Regions from separate parts of the Homo sapiens genome. Here all the other regions are linked to region 2. The links come from fine-mapping of genetic effects on plasma protein levels. A gene starts in region 2. Each other region holds a variant in brackets. All regions are shown on one strand. Distances are between the middles of the regions. Region 1 overlaps SLC7A5 (solute carrier family 7 member 5). Region 2 holds the start of CA5A (carbonic anhydrase 5A). Region 3 overlaps CA5A (carbonic anhydrase 5A). Region 4 overlaps CA5A (carbonic anhydrase 5A).

The links. PIP is the posterior inclusion probability: the model's chance that the variant is causal. The UK Biobank Pharma Proteomics Project read protein levels with antibody pairs (Olink). The fine-mapping took linkage between variants from a reference panel, not from the people measured, so its PIPs are less certain.
Region 1: its variant is fine-mapped to the plasma level of the CA5A protein (UK Biobank, PIP above 0.99).
Region 3: its variant is fine-mapped to the plasma level of the CA5A protein (UK Biobank, PIP above 0.99).
Region 4: its variant is fine-mapped to the plasma level of the CA5A protein (UK Biobank, PIP above 0.99).

What each region holds. Positions count from the first base shown.
Region 1 is chr16:87,855,410-87,860,554 of GRCh38, forward strand. All of the region lies in intron 1 of SLC7A5 (solute carrier family 7 member 5), which reads right to left. Among named protein-coding and RNA genes, the nearest start is that of MIR11401, 4.1 kb to the left of the region's middle. RefSeq lists a silencer at 526-714 and an enhancer at 5,096-5,145. The variant G/A (reference allele first, on the strand shown) is at 2,164.
Region 2 is chr16:87,933,866-87,939,010 of GRCh38, forward strand. It overlaps CA5A (carbonic anhydrase 5A), which reads right to left and starts at 2,664. Exons shown (of 7, transcript NM_001739.2): 1 at 2,444-2,664. The coding sequence starts at 2,585.
Region 3 is chr16:87,902,211-87,907,355 of GRCh38, forward strand. It overlaps CA5A (carbonic anhydrase 5A), which reads right to left. Exons shown (of 7, transcript NM_001739.2): 3 at 2,576-2,694; 4 at 215-310. Among named protein-coding and RNA genes, the nearest start is that of CA5A, 32 kb to the right of the region's middle. The variant C/T (reference allele first, on the strand shown) is at 2,492.
Region 4 is chr16:87,891,140-87,896,284 of GRCh38, forward strand. CA5A (carbonic anhydrase 5A) reads right to left here. Exons shown (of 7, transcript NM_001739.2): 6 at 660-815. Among named protein-coding and RNA genes, the nearest start is that of SLC7A5, 24 kb to the left of the region's middle. The variant T/C (reference allele first, on the strand shown) is at 2,477.

The DNA.
Region 1 (5,145 bases), 78 kb before region 2:
GGTGCATACCGCTGGCTGACCCCCCAACTCTGCTCAATCACACACGTGCACACACACGCACAGCACCCCCACAACTTGTAAACCAGGAGGCTGCCTTCTCCTGGCCCCTGGCCTTACCCCTCTCCCCTCGGGGGGATGACTCTCTGAGGTGCCTCCCTGCCTGATGCCCGTGAACGCTCACCTCTGCGGCAGCCGGCTCTGCTCACCTCCCCTGATGCTGGCATCTTGGTCTCCTGGCCCCAACTCTGTCCAGCTCCTGATAAAATCCCGCTACAAGCAAAGGGATGATCCCCCAGGGTCCAGTGTTGGAGGAGAGGGGTGGGGGAAGGGCCAGTAACAGGTGTGTTCAATATGGAGAGCAGGTGGGACCTGTGGGCCCCGGCTGGGTGGGGACCCCGCAGGCCCCATGAACCCACCCCACACGGACTAATGCCTGATTCTTTCAGGTAATAAACATGTACCAGGTACAGGAGCATCCGTGGATAGGGTTCAGGGTCAGCCACAATGAAAATCCTCTCTGTTGGCCACAGAGGCTGCTCCCTGGGCCGCCGGTCCTCACCTGCCCCCGAGCCAGGCACAGCAGTGAGTCCTGCAGGGCTCAGCACCTTGGCCTGTCTGTAAGTGGGAGTACCCAGTGAACATGATCCTCCCGGGCCCCTTCGAGCCCAAACACAGCCACTGTGAGTGCCCCAGGCAGGCGTCCAGCCCAGGCAGGCATCCTGCAGTCCCTTCTGTCATTTTCAGACCCAACAGAAACAGAAGTGCTCCTGCCAGGCCCCCGAGGACTGCCTCCAGGAGTCATCTGTAATGACAGGCTGTGTTCCGCGCACGGTTTCAGAGTCTGTCCAGAGGGCCAATGCTGGGGCTGGGGCAGAGATGGTCCAAGGCCTGTGAGCTGTGCAGCTTTATAGGCAAATGACGATTGTTTACCCAGAACTGCCTGCTGGAGACAGCACAGAGGAAGTGGCCGGCAGCTTCATCAGTTCCAGGAAGCCCAGGCAGCCTGGTCCCCCAGGGTGCACCGGGCACAGCAGTTCGCACGGGGCCGGAGAGCGGCAGCTGACCACAGCAACTACAGCTGGCCCGACACCGGGCACAGGTACCAGCCCAGCCCAGTCCCGCCCAGTGCAGCCTGTGGCCCCTAGCGGAGCCAGCACCTGGCAAACCTGACACCCAGCCTTGGAGCTTGGGCCCCCCTCTGCAGCTGGCTGGGGCTCCTGAGACAGCTTCTTTGTCGGAATCCACTCGGTACGCACAGGGCCCCGAACTTGGTGGCTGCCCAGTGCACATGGGGCTTTAGTAGAACCAGTACCTTCCTCCCTGGCCCCTTCAAGTCTAAATATCCCCTGCTCTGAGTACAAGCCTCCACCTTCTCCACCGACAGACAGCCCCCACCATCTCCCGTGTCATCCCCCGGGGGAACTTATAAAAGCAGTGGTGGGGGAGGCGGATGGAAACCCAGAGCTTCTGATCAGGCAGGTCCGGGAGATGGAGACAACACATCTGCACAGAACAAGGTCCCAGGGAGGCTGGTGCTGCCGGCCTGGGGAGCGCCCCCAGCACAGGCGCGTGCTTCCCTGATGGACACGTCACCGCCCCGGGCTCCAGAAAATGAATGTGTCTGACCCAGTGACCCCTGTCCTCACCCAAGGCCAACCTCACCCCAGAATGGGCTGGAATGCCAAGCCTGCCCATGCCGGCTCCAGATCCACCTGCCTCCCTGCCACTGCTGGCCAGAGAGAGAGGTCAAAGTGGTCCGGAAACCCCAAGGAAAATGAAGCAGTTCCGGGGCAGGGAAGCAAAGGCAGCGTTCACATTTTTTTTTTTTTTGAGACGAAGTCTCGCTCTTGTCGCCCAGGCTGGAGTGCAGTGGTACGATCTTGGCTCACTGCAACCTCCGCCTCCTGAGTTCAAGCCATTCTCTCACATCTACCTCCCGAGTAGCTGCAGCCTCCGCCTCTGGGGATCAAGTGATTCTCCTGCCTCAGCCTCCTGCCTCAGTAGCTGGGATTACTGACACCTGCCACCACACCGGCCTAATTTTTGTATTTTTAGTAGAGACAAGCGTTCACCATGTTGGCCGGGCTGGTCTCGAACTCCTGACCTCAGGCGATCCGCCCACCTTGGCCTCCCAAAGTGTTGGGATTACAGGCGTGAGCCACC[G/A]CGCCTGGCCGGGATGGTCTGCTTATAATGGCTCAATTTTGATGCCCAGTCTCTGCAGAGCACAAGGCCCCACCTTTGGGCCGGACATACAGATGTCCCTGGGCAAACAGAGAGATGATCCCAAGGCCCTGGCCCCACCTGTCTGCTCAGTGTTGAAACAGATTTCTGTGAAAACAAATTACTAACAGGCTGGTGTCACATTTTCAAATTCTGTCACCAGCCCTTGAACACATGTCTTTGTACTTTTTTCCATTTTTAACCGGGGCTGAGTTACGCCCAACCACACTGTCCTGGCTGGCACGGGGGAGGAGGTGTCAGCTGCTGTCCAGAATGGGGCTGACACATTCATTTTAAACAGGCCAGGAAGATGCAGATTTGGCAAGCTCTGAAATTTGCCAACATCCCAAGTCCAGGGTAAGCAGGAGAACTGGAAAAGGGCAGCTTCTCATGTGGTCAGGTTCTCCTGACACAAGCGTCCTGGTGGATTTGGGTTTCCCAAGGGTCCTGACTCCAGGAGACCCCCAGGGCTGACAGGAAGGGCCACCGCTCCCTCTGAAACTCTGAAACCAGGCCACCCGGTGCTGAAATGCTGTGTGAACTCCGGCAAGTTCCTTTGCAGGGACTGAGCCTCCCTTTCCTGTTTCCAACAGACTGGAACAACTGCCTCCTGCTGCATGGGCGAAATACCTCGCGGACGTGTCTTACGGCGCCCCATGAAAGCATCACCATTAATCTGACCAGTCACCGCAGCATGAGTATCTTCAGGGCACAGATGAAGCCGTGGGCACCAGTGATAAGGAGTTGCCACTGCTGGCTAAGTGCGGAGCCTCACACATCTGTGGTCCGGAAACCCACGCCCCACTCCAAACCCTCTACAGCTCCAACAGTTATGCTAACAAGAAAAAGGAGTGAAAACCCGCTCCAGTCACGGTATTGTGGAGGTGGAAGGACACTTGTGGCAGCCAATCCAACACCTCCATTTTATAGCCGGGGTAAACGTAGTTCAGAGAGGTTGTCCCACTTGGTGAAAGTCACACAGCAGTTCCTGGGCGGCAAAGTGAGGACATCCAGGTCTCCTAAATCTCACCCTCGTGCTCTGGCCACTTGACTGGGATTTTCAATCCCGGCTGTCAAAGAGAAGCACCAAGTCCACTTGGGCTCCTGGCCAGCGTCCAAGCCAGTCCAACTCAACAGCAAGCGGAAGCAAATACCACACAATGAACTCGTTGAACAGACTCTGCGCTCAGGCTTAACCAGTGCACAGCCTGTACACCCGACAGGAGGATGCAGCTGTTCCAAGCTAAGGCCAGGGCCTCTCCCCAATCCCGATGGGCTCTGCAGATGCAGTGATGGAAGAATCCCTGGTGACGGGGAGCCCTTAGCTCTGAGCAGGACCTGAAGCCATCTCAGGGCTTGCACCGGCCCAGATGCTGCTGCACAAGTGCTCCAGGGGCTCCTGCCCTGCCCTCCTCACCTGCCCCCTCACCTGTCAGGGATGTTTGATTCCTGGCTGGCCCCTCCCCTACCTGACCCCTGCCAAAGACCCACGTCACCCCAGGCTTCCAGCTCTGAAGCAAACGACCAGAGAAGTCAAGCGCCTGGCTCCGGGCCACACAGCTTGAGGGACTCAGAGCTCCAGGGACAGTGCCCGGGCCCTGCTCAGGCCTTCTGCAGAGGCCCTGGGCTCTTCCAGTTGACTCAGCTCACAAGGCCCCTACACGGTAGCAGGTGAAGACAGGGCCCCAAGAACCCTCAGGCTCTGAAGCCACACATGAGAGCCGTGGACAGAATCCTGCATTGGCCTCCAGCAGCTCGAGAGCACAGGGACAAAGCTGGACTGGCCCCGGGGTCACCATGGCCTTGGTTTTGTAGCAGCTGCAGTTTGAGCACGTACACCAAAAATAAAATTCTAAGCCCCGTAACTGACTAAAGGGACCCCTCCTATTGCCAAAGGGATATTCCAAAGTTAACCTGAAAAACGAGCTCAGGTCACGATGGGAAGAGGGGGTCACACAGGCCTTGTTATACCCCCTCCCTCTGGAATTCAGGTACAGCGGACCAGCACTAACACTCAAACACAGATCTTGGCCTGGCTCAGTGGCTCATGCCTGTAATCCCAGCACTTTGGGAGGCTGAGGTGGGCAGATCACGAGGTCAGGAGTTCGAGACCAGCCCGACCAACATGGAGAAACCCCATCTCTACTAAAAATACAAAATTAGCCAGGCATGGTGGCGGCAGGCACCTGCAATCCCAGCTACTTGCGAGGCTGAGGCAGGAGAATCGCTTGAACCGGGTTGCAGTGAGCTGAGATCATGCCACTGCACTCCAGCCTGGGTGACAAAAACAAAACAAAACAAAACAAAACAAAACACAATATTCGTCTCCACAACCTCCTGTCTTACCCAGATACTCCTTTCTATTGATACCAGGTCTTTAGCTAATAACTCTTTCAACCAATTGTGAATCAGAAAATCTTTTGCCAGGCACGGTGGCTCACACCTGTAATCCCAGCACTTTGGGAAGCCAAGGTGGGCGGATCACCTGAGATCAAGAGTTCGAAACCAGCCTGACCAACATGGTGAAACCCCCGTCTCTACTAAAAACACAAAATTAGCTGGGCATGGTGGTGCATGCCTGTAGTCCCAGCTACTCGGGAAGCTAAGGCAGGAGAATCACTTGAACCCAGGAGGCGGAGGTTGCAGTGAACTGAGATCATACCACTGCACTCCAGCCCGAGTAACAAAAGCATCTCAAAAAAAAAAAAAAATACACACACACACACACACACACACACACACACACACACACACACACACACACACACACATATATATATAAAGAAAAAGGAAATCTTCGAACCCACCTGTGACCAGGAAGCCCATCCCCGCCTTGGAGTTGTCCCGCCTTTCTCGGCAGAACCAACAAATACCTTTCATGTACTGACTGATGTCTGCCTGTAACTTCTGTCCTTGTAGGAGGTA
Region 2 (5,145 bases):
TGCTTGGCAGAATATTCTGCTCTTTGTGGAACTCTGAAATGATTTGGCAGAGCCCTCTGTTCACTGGGAACAGGTTGAGGACCATGGTGTAAATGGATTTAGGTGCCGATACAGAATATGACTCTCTCTAGCACACGATGTAAGAGGACATGTTGCCACAGTAAGAAATGGAATGCTACCTGCTGCCCACTGACAGGGAAATGCTTAAATAGACACAGGGCACCCACCGCTGCCTGTGTTAGCAACAGCAGCAGCTGGCGTCTAGCAAGGGCTTCCTGGAGCCATGTGCTGTCCCCAGCCTTTGCAGGCCCCACCTCGGACCCTTCTCCCAACGACACTGTGCCGTAAGCACCATTATCAACCCCCTGTTACAGACGACAAAACCAAGGCTGGGGGAAGTTAAGAAAGTCACAGAGGGGACAGCTGGGCGTGGTGGCTCACGCCTGCAATCCCAGCACTTTGGGAGGCTGAGGCGGGCAGATCACCTGAGGCTGGGAGTTCAAGACCACCCTGAGCAACATGGAGAATCCCTGTATCTACTAAAAATACAAAATTAGCCGGATGTGGTGGCGCATGCCTGTAATTCCAGCTACTCGGGAGGCTGAGGCAGGAGAATTGCTTGAACCTGGGAGGTGGGGGTTGCGGTGAGCTGGAGATCGCACCACTGCGCTCCAGCCTGGGCAACAAGACAGAAATTAGTCTCAAAAAATAAAGGAAAGTCACAGAGGGGCAACAGCCATAGAGCAGTGGGGCCAAGATTCCAATCTAGGCAGGCTAGCGCTCTTGACGGTCGTACTAAGAATAAAAAAGGGGGGTGGGTGCAGTGGCTCACGCCTGTAATCCCAGCACTTTAGGAGGCCGAGGCAGGTAGACCACCTGAGGTCGGGAGTTTGAGACCAGCCTGGCCAACATGGCGAAATCCTATCTCTACTAAAAATACAGAAATTAGTTGGGCGTGGTGGCACACGCCTGTAGTCCCAGCTACTTGGGAGGCTGAGTCAAGAGGATCGCTTGAACCCAGGAGGCAGAGGCTGCAGTGAGCCGAGATCGCACCACTGCACTCCAGTCCACAGGTGTGGACCCCAACAGGAGGAATGAGTGTAGCTCACTCAGAGTCTGGGGTGGGCCAGGCTTTCTACACGCATCGTGTCATCCTTCCATGGCCCTGGAGAGAAAGTCTGGCCACCCCCATCTCGAGATAAGGACACAGAGGCTTGGGGGTGAAGACCTGCCGAGGCTCCACCTCAGCAAGCGTCAGTCGGACTGCATGCCTGGGGTCTGGCTCCTAAGCCCATGCTCTTTCAATGGCCCAAACATGGAATGCATGGAAGATTTCAGTTAGAAGAGAACTTGGCAGCTGCCAAAGCAGGCTCTCATTCTACGGAGGAAGCACCTGAGACCCAGAAAGAGGAAGGGCCTCGTTCAAGGTCACAAGGCACTGACCATGAAGCCAGGAGGGGCTGGCACGGGGCAGTTTCTTGGCAGAGCTGGCTGAGTGGTTTATTTGTTACAGGTTTGCTTGAAAGCGTTCTCTGCCGAAGAGTTTAGGAGCGATCGTGACTGGTTAGTGCAGCCCATTCCGCCGGGTCTGGATGGTGAGTCGTGCCAGTGTGTCCCGTGCGAACACGGACTACCCGCCTGCTCCCAGCATCTTGCCCTCCCCAGGACCCCTGAAACGGAGGCTAAATGATTCACCCAAGGTCACCAAATACAAGAGAAACGGAGTGTGGCCAGGCGCGGTGGCTCACGCCTGTAATCCTAGCACTTTGGGAGGCCAAGGTGGGTGGATCACCTGAGGTCAGGAGTTCGAGACCAGCCTGGCCAACATGGTGAAACCCCATCTCTACCAAAATACAAAAAATTAGCTGGGTGCAGTGGCGGGTGCCTGTAGTCCCAGTTACTTTGGAGGCTGAGGCAGGAGAATCACTTGAACCTGGAGGGCAGAGGTTGCAGTGAGCCGAGATCATGCCATTGCACTCTAGCCTGGGCAAAAGAGCAAAACTTCATCAAAAAAAGAAAAAAGAGGGCCGGGCGCCGTGGCTGATGCCTGCAATCCCAGCACTTTGGGAGGCTGAGACAGGCGGATCGCGAGGTTAGGAGTTCGAGACCAACCTGGCTAACACAGTGAAACCCTGTCTCTACTAAAAATACGAAAAATTAGCCAGGAGTGGTGGCATGCACCTATAGTCCCAGCTACTCAGGAAGCTGAGGCAGGAGAATCGCTTGAACCCGGGAAGTGGAGGTTGTGGTGAGCTGAGATCACGCCACTGTACTCCAGCCTGGGCCACAGAGCGAGACGCCATCTTAAAAAAAAAAAAAAAAAAACGGAGTGGAAATCTGAACCCATCTGGCTCGGGACGGTCTCTCCTCTCTCCTCTCGAAAGACCCCATCAGCTAAGACAAGGATCCAGTCGCATCTTAGGAAATTTGAGGCTCTACTTACAAGTGTTATTGCTGGTTTGCCATGCACAGGAACGCTGAGAACACCATCGCCCTGGCCTCATCGAACGACTCCAGAGAGGGGCCCACATCTGCTCAACCAAGAAGGAGAAAGCTGAGGTCTTCCAAGTGTTCCTCCCCAACATCTTGGGTCTGTTCCCACTGACTCCAGTCTGAAGAGGGTGATGTTCCCTGCTGTCTGTTCTCACTTTGATCAGGACCACTGTGGACTGGCGTGTACCCACCTCTTTTTGTAGAAACTCATCCCAACCCCTGAGCCTAATGGTTAAAGTTCAACCCATGCCTTTCCCAACAGGGTGGGTCCACAGGGATTAGTGGCCTCTGCTGGGGACAGGCCACTCAGGTCACTGGGCTTTGATCTGGCAAACAGGAGCACAAGTCTGCCAGGGAGCTAGAAAAACTGTACGGTGGGGCTGCGTGAGCACCAGGGGATTACGCGGGAGGCGGGGGCGAGTGGATGAGAGCAGAGTCCCTGTTTCTTTCATGGGGTTGACCGTGTGGTTTGGGGCTCCGGGACACTCAATACCAGGCACAAAGCCATGGTGTGCATGTGAGGAGGGACTGGCAGGCAGGCTCAGAAGTACAGGAATGGGACTGGCCAAAGCGCTGCTGGGTAGACAGGCCAGGGGAGCAGGGAGCTTCTGTCCACCCACCAGGGCTCCTGAAGTCATGGAGTCCTTGCTTGCCTTAAAATAGGTGCGATTTGATTCATTCATCCTCCCCGGAAGCAAGATGCCCTGTGGCTTCGGACACTTCCAGGTCATGCCTGCTGTCTTGGCATAAACATTAACAGGGCCACCTTTCTTTCTTTCCTTTTCTTTTTTTTTTTAGACAGAGTTTCACTTCTGTTGCCCAGGCTAGAGTGCAATGGCGTGATCTCGGCTCACTGCTACCTCTGCCTCCCAGGTTCAAGCAATTCTCCTGCCTCAGCCTCCTGAGTAGCTGGGATTACAGGCGCCCACCACCATGCCCAGCTAATTTTTTGTATTTTTAGTAGAGATGGGGTTTCACCACGTTGGCCAGGCTGGTGTTGAACTCCTGACCTCAGGTGATCTGCCTGCCTCGGCCTCCCAAAGTGCTGGGATTACAAGTGTGAGCCACTACGCCCAGCCTCTTTTCTTCGTTTCTTTTCTTTTCTTTCTTTCTTTTTTTGAGATGGAGTCTCGCTCTGTTGCCCAGGCTGGAGTGCAATGGCGTGATCCTGCCTCACTGCAACCTTTGCCTCCCAGGTTTAAGCAATTCTCCTGTCTCAGCCTCCTGAGTAGCTGGGATTATAGGCACACACCACCACAACGGCCAATTTTTTGTATTTTTAGTAGAGACGGGGTTTCACTGTGTTCCCCAAGCTGGTCTCGAACTCCTGAGCTCAGGCAATCCACCCACCTCGGCCTCCTAAAGTGCTAGGATTACAGGCATGAGCCACTGCGTCCAGCCTCTTTTCTTTTCTTTCTTTCTTTCTTTCTTTCTTTCTTTCTTTTTTTTTTTTTTTTTGAGGTGAGGTCTTGCTCTGTCACCCAAGGTGGAGTGCGGTGGTGCCATCATGGCTCACTGCAGTCTCAATCACCCAGGCTCAAGTGATCCTCCCTCCTCAGCCTCCCAAGTAGCTGGGACTATAGGTGCATGCCATTATGTCCAGCTAATTTTAAAAATTATTTGTAGAGGCAGGTTCTCGCCATGTTGCCCAGGCTGGTCTTGAACTCCTGGGCTCAAGCAATCCTCCCAGAGTGGCCTCCCAAAGTGCTCGGATTACAGGCATGAGCCACTGCCCCTGGCCTGGTACCTCCCTTCATGCCCAGGGTCCACATGGGTATGTTAGCTGGTCACTCTAGCCAGGCAGCTGGTGATATTTGCAGACGCCAACCCACAAAGAACCTTCCTTTGGGTCCTTTGAGCGGCACAGCAGTTTATTCACCCAGACACCTTTTACCTGTGAAATGGAACCCATGGGATTGGGATGCACCAGTTTGTGACTTCTTGTTGTTGTTTAAACTTACAATCTTTTAGGGGGCAGGGCTATCATAACTTTTCATAGAATCCTGGAATCTTAGATCTAGAAAACCCTACAGAACACAGGTGTTGAAATGCGAGTCCACTTGTAGGCTCCTGAAAGCCCAAGAATCCCACTGAAATCCCCCACACAATGGATAGGGTCTGCGGCTTTCGGCCACTGCTCTGGTGGGCCCAAGAGTTTGCTTGCATTTGTTTTGAGCAACAAAAACCAAGTCTGGATGATATGTTCTCTCCTTCCCACACAGTCATGGTGGAAATGCACCCACTCTTGGGAAGTCTGATTCATTGTCATTCATTCATTGACCCACTCACTCATTCATTGACTCACTCACTCACTCATTGACTCACTCACTCATTCACTCACTCACTCATTCATTCACTCACTCATTCATTCTCTCACTCAGTCAATCATTCATTCACTCATTCATTCATTCATTCACTCACTCATTCACTCACTTATTCATTCACTCACTCATTCACTCATTCACTCATTCATTCACTCATTCACTCATTCATTCATTCACTCATTAATTCATTGGCTTTTGCCTCCATTTCCTCATCTGTAAAGTAGGGAAGATTCTAGGATTCCATCATACACGATAACACTCTGTCGAGCTGTTGTTGACACAAGTGATGTCCTTAGAGCGGCACTTTCATTGCTGCAGGCCAAGCTCC
Region 3 (5,145 bases), 32 kb before region 2:
GGGTGTGGTGGCACACTCCTATAGTCCCAGCTACTGGGGAGGCTGAGGCAGGAGAATCACTTGAACCCAGGAGGTGCAGGTTGCAATGAGCCGAGACTGTGCCACTGCACTCCAGCCTGTGTGACACAGCGAGTCCTGTCTCAAAAAAAAAAAAGCAATCCTAATGATGGATCACCACTTTCTTCATTAGATCTACACCCGAGCAAGTGATTACCTTTAAAAACACGCCTATCACAGCCAAACCATTCTCTCCCACGACAGCTTCCTTGTAATTTTGGTATTTCACAGAATTCCAGTGAACTAAATGCAGCTGAAACACAATGGAAAGAGAACTTAAATTGATCAGCAAGAAATAAGACAGTCACTTCCCCTTCTGAATGGCTGACCTATGTGTCCACTTAATCATAATGAAATGGCCAGGCGCGGTGGCTCACACCTGTAATCCCAGCACTTTGGGAGGCGGAGGCGGGTGGATCACGAGGTCAGGAGATCGAGACCATGCTGGCTAACATGCTGAAATCCTGTCTCTACTAAAAATACAAAAAAAAAAAATTAGCTGGGCGTGGTGGCGGGAGCCTGTAGTCCCAGGTACTCAGGAGGCTGAGGCAGGAGAATGGTGTGAACCCAGGAGGTAGAGCTTGCAGTGAGCTGAGATTGTGCCACTGCACTCCAGCCTGGGTGACAGAGCGAGACTCCATCTCACAAAAAAAAAAAAAAAGAACTAAGTTGTTGCAGCCAGATGAGTAAGATCCCAGCACCAGCAGCACCTCTGAGCTCCCAGGCCCTTGACGAAGCCACAGGAAGGAACAGCCTCAGTCTTCCTGGTGGGGGGGGAAAGGAGAGGATCATGTTAACCTCATCCAATAGAAATGGGTGGTTTCATTATTTTCTACTTCCTAGTTATCCTTGGACAAGAATTACCAGAAGAAACTCAGGCCTCGGCTGGGCGCGGTGGCTCACGCCTATAATCTCAGCACTCTGGGAGGCCGAGGTGGGTGGATCACGAGGTCAGGAGTTCAAGACCAGCCTGGCCAAGATGGTGAAACCCCGTCCCTACTAAAACTACAAAAACTAGCCAGGCGCAGTGGCAGGTGCCTGTAATCCCAGCTACTCAGAAGGCTGAGGCAGGAGAATCACTTGAACCTGGGCAGCAGAGGTTGCAGTGAGCCAAGATCGTGAGATAGCGCCACTGCACTCCAGCCTAGGCAACAGAGTGATACTCAGTCTCAAAAACAGATAAATAAATAAATAAAATATCTGTTCATCAAAAACAAAGTTGCAGATAGAGATACTAAAATAAAAGTCATGTTGTTAAATGAAAGGAAGCACACAGAAGCCATTGTTGTGCTCATTCTTGGAACAATTTATAAATATGTGTATGATGATGACAATAGATATCACTCCCTATTTATAAAATGTCCGGAGGTCACCTCTGGGTGTGAGATTACAAGCAATTTTCATTTTTTGGTTTGGGTGGACTCTAGTTCCACATTAACTGCAGCATTACTTTCATAACAACAACAAGTTCAAAAAACAGAAAGAGTCCTCAGCTTGAAAAAGCATCAAAAAGTTAGGTGAGTGGGTGAGCAGAGGTGTGATAAAGTGAATATGGCAAAAATGATCATCACAGGACTGAGACATCAAACTCGTAGATTCTTCTCGTTCATTTCTTTTCATTTTTTCGTATGTTGCAAAAATTTCATAATGAAATATTTGGGGAAATCTATAAGGCATCACTTATCACCCCAAAAAAACTACAAAAACCAATTCCCAACATTGATATGCACTGATTTTCTCTACTGACTCCCACTTTGGAAGGTTGAAAATAAGACTGCTTTAAGATGATCTTAGCCGGGTACGGTGGCTCACGCCTGTTATCCTAGCACTTTGGGAGGCTGAGGTGGGTGGATCACTTGAGGTCAGGAGTTCGAGACCAGCCTGGCCAACATGGCGAAACCCCATCTCTACTAAAAATACAAAAATTAGCAGGGCCTGGTGGCACGCACCTGTAATCCCAGCTACTCGGGAGGCTGAGGCAGGAGAATCGCTTGAGCCTGGGAGACGGAGGTTGTGGTGAGCCAAGATTGCACCAATGCACTCCAGTCTGGGTGACAGAGTGAACCCTGTTTCAAAAAAAAAAAACCAAAAACCAAAAAACAAACAAACAAACAAACAAAAGAAGATGATCTCTATTGCAAAGATGTTCAGCTTCTCAGCAGAGGGCCTTGTGGATTTGCTAGTCCCTACAGCTGCAAGCACACAGCTGAGTGAAGTGCGGCAAAGAGCTCAAGCTCTGACTTTGCATCCCGGCTGTCTGGCTTTGGCAAGTTCCGTAACCATTCAGAACCTCAGTCTCTTCTTCCGTTAAATGAGAGAGAACTTACAGCGCCTTCCTCGTAGGAGAGGTGTGACTAAACGGGTGGGGCGGCCGACGGTTCTGGTTTGAGCACTGACAGTCCCAGGCCCCAGGAAATCCTTCACATCTGAGCGG[C/T]GCGCATGGCTTGTTCACCCCCCACCATAGAGCCGGAGACATGGAAAGTGTGCAGATATGTGCTGTTAGGCCACGTCTACAAACCTCTGCGGGGTACGCGTGGCCGTCCACTGTGTGCTCTGAGCCCCCCTCGTTCACTGCTCCCCAGTGGAAGTGAAATTGCTTCAGTCTGTAGTGGTTTTCCAAGGGCCCACCACTAATTCCTGGAAATAAAGGCAGTGAGACGTGTGTGTCATTTTGTCTGTTTGTTGAGCTGTGGTGTTACCTGAGGCATTGTCTACATTAGGGTTATATGAGTTCACTCGCAAGGGGTTGCTGTATGGTTGAAGTGACAAGCCAAAGGTGGGCTCCGTGAAAGGTGGGCTCTGTCTGTCCCATTCACTCTGCCCCCCCCCAGCCCAGCGCCTGCCCAGAGGTTCACAGTAAATGTGGAATGAAGGCAGGGTCCCAGTGCTGCCACTGGGTGGTGGTGAGGGCCTCAACTCCCTGCAGGCAGAAATCCGTAAAGAACGTTTCTGTGATGCCTGCCTGTCCTATAAGATTTCCAGACTTTAATTAAAAAAAAAGGTGTCTTCCAAATATTTTTTAAAAGCAGCTTAAATCCTATCACCAAATAACATTATAAAATAACACACAATGAGCAAAGTTTTTGTTTTGTCTTGTTTTGTTTTATTTTAAGACAGAATCTTACTCTATTGCCCAGGCTGGAGTACAATGGCATGATCTCAGCTCACTGCAACCTCCACCTCTGGGTTCTAGTGATTCTCCTGCCCCAGCCTCCTGAGTAGCTGGGATTACAGGCATGTGCCACCAGGCCAAGCCAATTTTTGTATTTTAAGTAGAGACGGGGTTTCACCATGTTAGCCAGGCTGGTCTCAAACTCCTGATCTCAGGTGATCCACCCGCCTCTGCCTCCCAAAGCGCTGGGATGACAGGTGTGAGCCACCGCTCCTGGGTGAGCAAGGTCTTTAAATAAGAAGACCCTGAGCTGTAGCATCAGTCCTGATCTCTGGCAGTCCCTGCTTAATCTAGGCCCACCACAGGGCCAGCTTTTATTGGAACACTCCTTCCTTCCTAAGTCACCCTAAACACTCACCTTGGAGTCAGCACTCTCTACCTGCAGGCCTCGGGGTGCCCCTCTCCATGGCACAGTGCCAGGTGCAGCCTCCCAGGAGCTTGCTTCTCCTGACATGTGGGGCTCAGCCATAAGCATCGCTCGCTGAGGCCTCTGGCTCTGGCCCCCAGAGTCATGGCTGCCATTCCCACGTCCAGGTAGTGCTGGGAGTCTGCCTTTTAACGAGCTCCCCAGGGGTTCGGATGTGGGTGGCTTCTCCTGTGTCTAAGTACTTTGTCACTAACAGATTTCCATCAGCAGCTGCTACAAATGGGGTACCCGTTCCACACGTTTTCACTGAAAGCAGCACAGCGTGCTCCTGGGATGGCTGGGCAAGGCTGGAAGGCGCCAGCAGAACTGGAGCACTGATCCCGAATTCAGGGTGGCCCGAGTGCCTCCCATAGCTGTGGAGGAGCCTCATGTCACCTCCCGCTGTGGCAAAAGCCAGGAAAGCACTGAGCGCGTGATGAATGCCTTGGGGAGCTTGACACTGCTGACTCCTGGTGGTTTCCCGACACCAGAAGTACTTGGGCTGGGCGTGGTGGCTCACACCTGTACTCCTAGCGCTTTGGGAGGCCGAGGCGGGCGGATCACTTGAGGTCAGGAGTTAGAGACCAGCCTGGCCAACGTGGTGTAACCCATCTCTACTGAAAATACAAAAATTAGCTGGGTGTGGTGGCGGGTGCCTGTAATCCCAGCTACTCGGGAGGCTGAGGCAGGAGAATTGCTCGAACCTGGGAGGCGGAGGTTGCAGTGAGCTGAGAACGTGCCACTGTACTCCAGACTGGGCGACGGAGTGAGAATCAGTCTCAAAAAAAAAAGTACTCATAGTTGGAGGCACCAAGGTGTAAACTGGAAAATGGAAAATGGATTTGGCTTTAGTCCAGTCAGGGGCTAGGCAAGTGCTGGACCAAGCCACAGAGCTGCTCACTGCCCCTCTTCACTCAAAATCTCAGTGTTGGTCTGGAGCAACCTCAGAGTCATATCTAGTTTTAAAATTCTACCATTATGAGCAAATCTTCTATTCTCCTTAAACATACACAGATGAATTACATCTCAATTTTTAAAAATACACAGAAAGAGTCCTTCCCACAATAAGCACATAAAATCACTTTGTTAGGCCAGGCACAGTGGCTCACGCCTGTAATCCTAGCACTTTGGGAGGCCAAGGCGGGTGTATCACTTGAGGTCAGGTGTTTGAAACCAGCCTGGCCAACATGATAAAACCTCATCTCTACTAAAAATACACAAAATTAGCCAGGTGTATTGGTGGGTGCCTGTAATCCCAGCTACTTGGGAGGCTGAGGCAGGAGAATCGCTTGAACCTGGCGGGTGGAGGTTGCAGTGAGCCGAGATTGCGCCAATGCACTTCAGCCTGGGCGACAGAGTGAGACTCTGTCTCAAAAACAAAACACAGGCGTGAGCCACCGTGCCTGGCCTCCAAAACACAATCTAAGGAACTTACAGAACCACAAAATGGGAGCACGGTGAGCTCTGTGCTCGCTTCTGCCTCGGCCTGTGTCTGTGGGGGAAAGGGGGT
Region 4 (5,145 bases), 43 kb before region 2:
TTCGAAAAAAAAAAAAGCAATGAAACTATTTAGATAAGAAAAAGGAGGCCGGGCTCGGTGGCTTATGCCTGGAATCCCAGCGCTTTGGGAGGCCAAGGTGGGCAGATCACCTGAGGTCAAGAGTTCAAGACCAGCCTGGCCAACATGGTGAAACTCCGTCTCTACTAAAAATACAAAAATTAGCCAGGCGTGGTGATGGGTGCCTGTAATCCCAGCTATTTGGGAGGCTGAGGCAGGAGAATCGCTTGAACCCAGGAGGTGGAGGTTGTAGTGAGCCGAGATCGCACCACTGCACTCCAGCCTGGGCGATAGAACGAGACTCTGTCTCAAAAAAAAAAAAGGAAAGAAAAGAAAAAGGAAGAAAACAAAAACCATGCAGACCCATGACCCTGGGACAACTCCCATGGATGCCTCGTGTGTCTGTGTGTGATAGATTAGGGCGTTGCTCAGGACATGCTTGCTGTGATCACTGGAACCGCTGTCCAATCTCAACAAGCTCCTACTTCAGTTGGAATTTTCTTCTTGTGTAAGAATGCCCCAAATGCATGAAAGAATATATATAACTCCACAACGCTCTCATGCAGCATCTTAGTGACGCTGCCAAGCAAGAGGGACGCCTTCCATGAAGCGCCATCGTGCCAGTTACGGGCACGGCTCACCTGGCTTGGGGCCACTTCAACGGGCTCCTTCTGGATGATCCAGGTGACCGACTCGGTCAGCGGCGGGGTGGTGAGCGAGCCCGCGTAGGTCCAGTAATCCCAGCAGGTGGGCAGCAGAGTGGAGGGGTCGAAGGGGCGCATGGCCGCCCGCGCGTCCTGAGAGACCGAGAAGCACAGGACGTGTCAGTCCTCAGGGGAGACTAGGAGCTTCCATCTTGTCTCAGCACGTGAGGCCTTCATGGTGCTTGGAAGGAAGTGCTTTCCCCCAGATAAGGCCATGAGGCCACTGCTGTCACACTTGCAAGCAGTGATGAGAAAATGTGACCCTTCTATACAGAGCAAGGATTCCTGCCAACTTACATTGGTGGGAATTACGTTACATTACACCAGCTTACGTTGGTGCTCACATTTTTCCTTTTGAAGTCATTTCTTGGGGCGCAGTAGCTCACCCCTGTAATCTCAGCACTTTGGGAGGCCGAGGCGGGTGCATCACTTGAGGTCAGGAGTTCGAGACCAGCCTGGTCAACGTGGTGAAACCCTGTCTCTACTAAAAATACAAAAATTATCCAGATGTGGTGGTGGGCGCCTGTAGTCCCAGCTACTCAGGAGGCTGAGGCAGGAGAATCGCTTGAGCCCAGGAGGCAGAGGTTGCAGTGAGCCGAGATCATGCCACTGCACTCCAGCCTGGGCAACAGAGTGAGACTCTGTCTCAAATAATAATAATAATAATAATAATAATAATAATAATAATAATAATAAATTAATTAATAATAAAAATAAAAATAAAGCCATTTCTTTTAGCATACCTTGGCTGCAAAAAATATTACTTTTTATTGTGATAAAATATACATAACATAAAATTTACCATCTTAACCTTTTTTTTTTTTTTTTCGAGATGGAGTTTTGCTCTTGTTGCCCAGGCTGGAGTGCAATGGTGTGATCTTGGCTCACCGCAACCTCTGCCTCCCAGGTTCAAGCGATTCTCCTGCCTCAGCCTCCAGCGCCTGCCACCACGCCCAGCTAATTTTTGTATTTTTAGTAGAGACAGGGTCTCACCATGTTAGCCAGGCTGGTCTTGAACTCCTGACCTCGGATGATCCACCCGCCTTGGCCTCCCAAAGTGCTGGGGTGAGCCACTGTGCCCGGCCTATGGGCTCCTTTTTAAGGAGGGAGTCATGGTGGCCAAGAAGGATGTCCACATGCCTAAGCACCCGGAGATGGCAGACAAGAATGTGCCCAACCTTCATGTCACGAAGGCCATGCAGTCTCTCAAGCCCCGAGGCTGCCTGAAGGAACAGTTTGCCTAGAGACATTTCTTTCTTTCTTCCTTTCTTTCTTTCTTTCTTTCTTTTTTTTTTCAGACAGAGTCTCCAGGCTGGAGTGCAGTGGTGCGATCTCAGCTCACTGCAGCCTCTGCTTCCTGGGTTCCAGCGATCCTCCTGCCTCAGCCTCCCTAGTAGCTGGGACTACATCTTCACGCCATCGCGACCAGCTAATTTTTTATATTTTTAGTAGAGACGGGGTTTCACCATATTAGTCAGGATGGTCTCGATCTCCTGACCTCGTGATCTGCCCACCTCGGCCTCCCAAAGTGTTGGGATTACAGGCGTGAGCCACCACGCCCGGCTTGCCTGGAGACATTTCTACTGCTACCTTACCAATGAGGGCATCCAGTATCTCCGTGATTACCTTCATCTGTCCCTGGAAACTGTGCCTGCCACCCTATGCTGCAGCCGTCCAGGGACTGGCAGGCCTCGGCCTAAAGGTCTGGAGGGTGGGCGACCTGCAAGACTCACAAGAGGGGAAGCTGACAGACA[T/C]ACCTACAGACGGAGTGCTGTGCCCCTGGTGCCGACAAGATAGCCGAGGCTCGGGCTGGGTCAGCAACCGAATTCCAGTTTAAAGGCAGATTTGGTCGTGGACATGGCCAGCTACCTCAGTAAAATCAGAGAGGATTATTTTGCATTGAATACACTCACAGCCAAAAAACAAAAAGAGTCAGGGTCTTACTTTGTCACCCAGGCAGGAGTGCAATGATGCCATCATAGCTCACTGCAGGCTCTAATTCCTGGGCTCAAGCGATCCCCCCGCCTCAGTTTCCCAAGTAGCTAGGACACCACACCAGGGTTTAAAATTAATTGTTTGTAGCCAGGGGGTCTTGCCATCTTGCCCAAGCTGTTCTCCAACTCCTGGGCTCAAGCGATCCTCCTGCCTTGGCTTCTCAAAATATTGGGATTACAGGCATAAGCCACTGTGCCCAGCCAGCTCTTTTGGATATATACCCAGAAGTGTGTGATTGCTGAATCATAGGGTAGTTCTATTTATAACTTTTTATTTTTTTTATTTTTTTTGAGGCAGAGTCTCACTCTGTCTTCCAGGCTGGAGTGCCGTGGCATGATCTCAGCTCACGGTGGTTGGGCCTGGCCGCAACACAGCCCTCATCAGCGTCCCATGCCAACCAAGCATAGCTCTGCACCTGCCCCTGGCCAGCACTGTGGGACAAGAGTCCAGTCCAAAGTGACAGAGTCCCTGTCTGCAAGGAAGATGGCCTCCCTGCTCAGCCACATCACATCACCTTGACTTTGCTGGGCCCTGGCCTTCCAAGGTGGAAGCTGGCAACCCAGATGCCTTGGGCTTGTCTCCTAACATCAAGCAGTGAGGGTCAGGGTCAAGAGAGGTGGCTGAGCTACCAGAAGGAAGCCCGGGAGTGTCCACACTGGCAGACACATGCATCAGTTCTATGCACGCATGTTCACGTTTATAATTATCCAGTTAATTAAAAAAAAAAAAACAGCATTATAGGCTGGGCACAGTGGCTCATGCCTGTAATCGCAGCATTTTGGGAGGCCAAGGCAGGCAGATCACCTGAAGTCAGGAGTTCAAGACCAGCCTGACCAACATGGCGAAACCCCATCTCTACTAAAAATACAAAAATTAGCCAGGCATGGTGGCAGGTGCCTGTCATCGCAGCTGCTCGGGAGACTGAGACACAGGAACTGCTTTGGCACAGGATGCAGAGGTTGCAGTGAGCCGAGATGGCACCATTGCACTCCAGCCTGGGCAACAGAGAGAGAGACTCTGTCTCAAACAACAGCAGCAGCAGCAAAACCCACAGCATTATTGTGATAGAATTCACATACCATGCAACTCTCCCATCTAAAGTGTACAGCCTGGTTGGGCGCAATGGATCATGTCTGTAATCCCAGCACTTTGGGAGGCCGATGTGGGAGGACTGCTTGAGGCCAGGAGTTTGAGACCAGCCTAAGCAACATAACGAGACCCTGACTCTACAAAAAATACAAAAACTAGCCAGGTGCAGTGGTGCACGCCTGTGGTCCCAGGTAGTTGGGAGGCTGAGGTGGGAGGATGGCTTGAGCCCCGGAGGTTGAGGCTGCAGTGAGCTGTGATCATACCACTGCACTCTAGCCTCGGTGACGGAGTGAGATCCTTTCTTAAAATAAGTAAATAGGCTGGGCACGGTGGCTCACGCCTGTAATCCCAGCACTTTGGGAGGCCGAGGCGGATGGATCACCTGAGGTCAGGAGTTCGAGACCAGCCTGACCAACATGGCGAAACCATGTCTCTACTAAAAATACAAAATTAGCCAGGCGTGGTGGCGCATGCCTGTAATCCCAGCTACTCGGGAGGCTGAGGCAGGAGAATCACTTAAACCCGGGAGGCAGAGGTTGCAGTGAGCTGAGCTCATGCCATTGCACTCCAGCCTGGGCAACAAGAGTGAAACTCCATCTCAAAAAGAAAACAAAAAACAAAAAACAAAAAAAGTAAATAAAAATTGAAGGGTACAGTTCTATGGTTTTGGGTATATTCACAGTTGTGCAGCCATCCCAAGTCAATTTTAGAACTTCCACCTCAAGGGGGAAGCTTGGTACTTTTTAGCTATGGTCCCCACCCCCGCCCTGCTGCTTCTGTCTCTGTGGGTTTCATAGGAACTGAGTCATGTAACATGTGGAACATTTGTGTCTTGTGTCTCTCACTCAGCACGGCGCTTTTGAGGCTCACCCACACCGCAGCATGAGTTAGAGCTGTGTCCTTTCTGATTGCCAAGTAATATCTCACTGCATGGTCTAGCTGGGTTGACATCCCATTGCACGCTCTAGCTGGGCTGTGAAGGAGCAGACTGCTTGTGCATGTGGGTAACAGGCGGGTGTGCAGTGAGACATCAGTCTGGTGCACGTGGGTAACAGGCGGGTGTGCAGTGAGACGTCCGTCTCCTCCTGCCTGCCACACATCCCCAGGGCACAGATGTGCCAGTCACTTTCTGAGCAACTACTTCAAATCTTCAGAACAACCCTTTGAGAAGTATTTCTAGTTTACTGATGAAGATAGACAGACAGATATAAAAAACTTGCCCAAAGCCACGTTGCCAGTCAGGGCCACTGAGGCCTGGCCCGTTCCGAGGTGCGGGCTCTTCCTTCCCTCCCCAAGGCTGCAGGAATCAGTCAGGGGAGTGGCAGGCTCCAGCCATGCC